Linked DNA regions of Homo sapiens: region 2 is linked to region 1. A link means that fine-mapping ties the variant in region 1 to the expression of a gene that starts in the linked region. Tissue or cell type: whole blood. Region 1 holds a variant in brackets; the other region holds the start of a gene. All regions are shown on one strand. Distances are from middle to middle.

What was found. PIP is the estimated chance that this variant, and not a neighbour inherited with it, causes the effect.
Region 2: it holds the start of HIVEP1, and the variant in region 1 is fine-mapped to the expression of HIVEP1 in whole blood (INTERVAL, PIP 0.94).

What each region holds. Positions count from the first base shown.
Region 1 is chr6:12,226,105-12,228,788 of GRCh38, reverse strand. No RefSeq gene overlaps it. Among named protein-coding and RNA genes, the nearest start is that of EDN1, 63 kb to the left of the region's middle. The variant T/C (reference allele first, on the strand shown) is at 1,166.
Region 2 is chr6:12,010,917-12,013,600 of GRCh38, reverse strand. It overlaps HIVEP1 (HIVEP zinc finger 1), which reads right to left and starts at 1,289. Exons shown (of 9, transcript NM_002114.4): 1 at 1,035-1,289. RefSeq lists silencers at 1,135-1,274, 1,455-2,364.

The DNA of each region.
Region 1 (2,684 bases):
CCTGGTGCACAGCGGAGAGACTCAATCATCCCAGAGGAAGTCTCTTTTTTCTCATTGGTTGGCCTAGAGAGGGGACGCCCTTCTGCAATTTATTCACCTCGAGATGAGAAGTTTCTACTTTGCACAACAGCCCATGCACAGAGCAGCATCTGTAAGCTTCAGCCATGCAGTTTCGTTTCCAGTACCCTCAGGCTGCTCCAAGAGCTCTTGCCTCTGGGCTTTTGAAGCGTTGCTCTTTCTTTACCTGGCTAAATACCATTTCTCCTTCAGGTTTCGGCTTAAATATCACTTCTTCCCCAAAGCCTCTCTGACCCCCAGGATGGTTACTGGCCACTCAGCACGCCATGCTTGCCTCTTTTCTAGCATTCATTCATTTACCCACTCACTTATATAATGATTATTTATTAAGCGCCAGCCAGAGTAAGGTGCCAGTGTATGGCAGTCCACAAGATGGACACAAGTCCTGTCTCTTGGAGCTAACAAAACATCAGCGAAGACAGGCATTAAATAAATCACTACACTTGGCCAGGTGTGGTGGCTCACGCCTGTAATTCCAGCACTTTGGGAGGCTGAGGTGGGCAGATCACTTGAGGTCAGGAGTTTGAGACCAGCCTGGCCAACATGGTGAAACCCTGTCTCGACTAAAAATACAAAAATATTAGCCTGACATGGTGGTGCATGCCTGTTATCCCAGCTACTCAGTAGGCTGAGGCAGGAGAACACTCGAACCTGGGAGGCGGAGGTCACAGTGAACTGAGATCACACCACTGCACTCCAGCTTGGGCGACAGAGCAAGACTCCACCTCAAAAAAAAAAAATTACTGCACCAAGAAATGTTTTATCTTAATTCTGAAGAGGCTCTAGGATGCAGTGGAAGTGTGTATCAAACTGGAGTAAGAGAATCACCCTTTGAGACTGTTTTGGAATTTTCTAAGTTCTTGTCTGTCTGCCTTCTGGGCTGTAGCATGCCTGAGCTCTAAATCTCATTTTTCTGAGTTATAGCCCCAGAGTTTAGCATAAGACACTCAATATGCACTCCATAAATTATAAATATTGCCGATATAAATATTACCATCTTGGAAATAGTCTCTACAAAGCTGTGTACTTTCTCACCTGTGACGAAACAGATTTTGAAGTACTTCTGTCCACAATTTTTATATGTCTC[T/C]GAATAGAGACAGTTAGTGGGGTGCACGTGTGGGAGAAGTCTTATAAAACTTGGGGCATTTTCTTTTTTAATATCTAGCCCCCCTTTCTTCCTCCTCCTTAGGAGGTATGAATCCTTCCCTGCCCCTCATCCCCCAGGCCTGAAGAACCTTTCCCCTTCCAACCCTCTCATAACTGGCTGCCACCATTTATGCCTTGCCTGAAGCTCATTCATACCAACTTGTTGATTCCCCCTGGTAGCTGCATTTTTAGACTTCTTTTCAATATCTAGCATGAAAGTTTGTATGTTCTGTAAAAGGAATGTCATGTGACTATGAAAAGTTAGGGGCACTTGAGATACGGGGCTCAGCATTGACATGTGAACTTCATTGCCTCACAAGTATTTGTGTTGTCATTGTGTGACAATACTGAGATATGTTACATATATTCTTTTGCATGACCCAAATACTGCCAATAATAAAATGTTTTTCTAGTTTTAATTCTTATTTAATATTCTCTTATTTTTAATTGACAAATAAGAATTGTATATATTACAGGCCAGGCGTGGTGGCTCACGCCTGTAATCCCAGCACTCTGCGAGGCTGAGGCGGGAGGATCATGGGGTCAGGAGTTAGAGACCAAGCCTGGCCAACATGGCGAAACCCTGTCTCTACTAAAATACAAAAAAAAATAGCTGGGCATGGTGGTAGGCATCTGTAATCCCAGCTACTAGGGAGGCTGAGGCAGGAGAATCGCTTGAACCCAGGAGGCAGAGGTTGCAGTGAGCCAAGATCGTGCCACTGCATTCCAGCCTCTGCAACAGGGTGAGACTCCACCTCAAAAAAAAAAAAAAAAAAAAAAGAATTGTATAAATTACAAGGTACAATAAGATGTTTTGATATATGTATACATTGTAGAAAAATTAAAGCTAATTAACATGCTAATTAACCTCACCTACTTACAAATTTTTTAGGGTGAGAATATTCAAAATTTACTCTTTCAGGTAAACAGGAGAAATAAGTGTTAGGGATCTATTGCATAGCATGGTGACCATAATTAATAATGATGTATTGTATACTGCAAAATTTCTAAGAGTAAGTTTTTAAACATTCTCACCACATAATAAAACTTTTAAATAAAAAATTACTGTTACTGAAGGCAAACTTGGTTAAACCAAGTTAAGATGAAACTGGTTTTTAAGAGGTTGAGGAGTCCTGAGTTGAAGGTACTACAAAATAGCTGCATGAGTTTCTCACCCTCTCCGTTACCACTCCCTTCCCCTTTGCTCACACATACCCAGGGATCCAGGGATCTAGGGCTCCTGGGCTATGGTGCCATCTGCCTTTGTATGTCCCTATCTGTGCTCCTATCTTTGCATCGGAATTTTGTCTTCAATCCTGCAGCTTGGCAGTTATGCTTTATGGCCCCAGACAGGCTGCTGACAGCACCCTCTAGATTCCCGAATCCCTGGGGAGCATGGACCTTATGGATGGGTGAAGAGTGTGTGTGTGTGTATATGCACATGCTTGTGTGTCCATGTG
Region 2 (2,684 bases), 220 kb after region 1:
AGCGTGAACTCTGACTGTAATCCAATCATGTGATCCCATGGGATCCGGAGCATAAATGTAAAATATGCACATTCCCTGTCCGTAAAGGCTTTCTGCTACCCCGTTCATTGCCTACCCACTGTCCCTAGCTGTCCATCCCATATTTAAATCCTTGTGGGGGGAAGTGGGTATTTCCAAAGACAGCAGCATTGTAGCGACTAGGACGAGTGATAAACCGTTCCTTTACGGGAAAGAAATAAATACTACATGGAGCAAAAACATGACACGATCAAAAAGCGTAAAGACAGTTGCAAGGAGAAAAAACATGAATGAATGTGGAGGGCGGAGCCTGGGAAAACCCCTCTGCAACGCTGCACTGAACAAAGCGCTTCGCATGCCAGGAGGAGGGGGGGAATGGAAGTGCCAGCTCAGGAAGGAGCCTGGAGTGGATGCAGAGAGCTGAGGAGGAGGAGGACGAGATGAGGCGAGCGCGGCAGCCCTGAGACTCCTCCTCGCCGCCTGCTCCGCCGCCGCCCCCTCCCCTCTCCAGCCAGCAACTCCTTCCCGAGCCCGACCCCAAGGCGAGCCCGAGCCGACCCGCACCCCAACCCACCGCCCCCTTCCCAACTGCAGCTGGCGCGCACTCCCAACCCGGAAAGAAACTACCCAGGTGGCCGGGAGTAAACAGGCACTTAGAGCAAAGAACGAAAGGGAAAGAAACCCACAAAGCCGGGAGGTTGGGATGCCGAGGCCTGGTCTCTTTCACCCCCCACCCTCTTGCAAAATGCGTCTGCGGCTGGAAGGCGGCTGGGGAGGCTGGGTCCCTCTGTACCTGCTCGGCTCGCGCGCGGCGAGGGCGCCCAGAAGTGCCAAGGGTCTCCCGCACGCAGCCATCCCCTCTGCAAGGTCGGCGGTTGCACACACACGCACACACACACACACACGCGCGCCCGCACGCCCCCCGCCCGCCGAAGGGATGTGCTCCTGCCCCCCCCCCCCTCCGCCCCGCCGCCCTCCCCAGCTGCAGCGCCCCCGCCGCGGAGCCCGCGCCGAACCTGCTGCCAGGACGCCCGGCGGAGCCGCTGCCGCTGCAGCCGGCCCTGGAGCTGCGCTGCTGATGGCGGCGGCCGCGGCTCGGGATCTCCGCGACCCCCGCGCGGCGGCGGCGGCGGCGCCTGGGATCCCTCCTTCACTTGACAACCCCAAACACAAACATAACCTCCTCCGGCGGCCGCCGCTCCCCGGTCCCCCGCTCCGTCCGCCACCCTGCCGCCGCCCAGCAGCCGCCACGCTGAAGGCCGGCGACTGGCGCTCACACCACCCAGCACTGAAATATTAAACAGGGGAGCGGGCCGGGGGGCGGGGGGGGGAGCGCGGGGCGCGCGGGCGGGGGCCGCAGCCGCCGGGCGGAGGAGGCGGCGAAGCTCGCCGGCGCCCGGAGCCACGGCATGATCGCGGCCGCCAGGGAGCCGGGCAGCCGGGCTGGGGGGCGCGCGCCGCGGCGGGGCGGGCGGACAGACCCTGGGGCCGCGGGGCCCGGGGCGGGAAGGACGGGCGCGGGCTTTACCTCTCCCCCGGGGCAGAGTAGGGCACGTTTAGCGTCTTTGGGGCCGGCGGGAGGAACGCGGGCCGGGCGGCGCGGGGGAGGCAGGGCGAAGGTCGGAGGCTTTCCCGCGGGTGGGCGGGGCGGCAGGGGATCCCCGGGGGCGGGAGGAGGGGAGGCCGCGGGCGGCGACGCGTGGGCGGGGGAGGGGGCGTCCCCGCGGGGGCTGGGGTTGAGGCCGGGGCGAGGGGCGCGGGACGCCCAGGCGCCGGGGCCCAGCTGGGCCGGCGCGGCCGCCAGCTCTGACCGGGTGTAGGGACTGGATGGGCGCCCGGCCCGGCACGAACCCGGAGCCAGTGCCCCGGGTCTCCCCGGCGGGGCGGGCCCCAGACCGCGCCGGCCCCGCCACCTACCCGCCGCTTCGCCCCTCCCCGCCCCGCCCGGCCGAGCCGCCGCAGGGACGGGAGGGGGACGCGGGAGGAGGTGGCAGCGCAGCCCGGGGGGGAGGGGCGGGGTTAGGGACGCGGGGGGCGGGAGCCCTGGGTCGCGACGCCTGGGGAACCAGCACACGGCGGGGGCGGAGGGGCGGGCCCGGCCAGTCACGCGGCCCCGGGAAGGCCTGGCGGGGTCGCTCAGTTGGGGGCGGTTGGTCCGGGAAGAGGGACGGGACGGGCGGGGCCGTAGTTTCTCTTTACCGTCTCTTTACTTTCTACAGCAGGATGTGGGCCGGCCGCTGACGTCATGGGGTCTCCCGGCCCCGCCCCTCGCCCGGGCAGAATGGGGGAGGGGGAGGCGGGGGGGGGGGGGGACCCCAAGGGGGTTTCCTCAGCAACGCGTAGAAGGAAGGGGAAAGTCATTGTGAAACTTAAAACTCATTAACTTTGAAAAACAACTTTTAAAAAAACGGAGGGGGCAGGGTGTTGGTTTGGAGAGTGGAAGGGGACATGTTAACCCTGAACTGAAACCACTTTTTGGTGGCGGATGTTCTATTAAAAGAGCGAGGAAAGCCAAGGTTATTCCAGAGGCCGCTCCAAAGCCCCGCTGGTGCTTCCCAGTGCCGAAGCTGCGAGCGCAATTAACCCCTGCCTGCCAGCCTGACAGCTTATAGGGCCAACCCGGGAGGGGACTTCGGGGACAGAAAAGGGGGGTGCGGGGCTGGTCG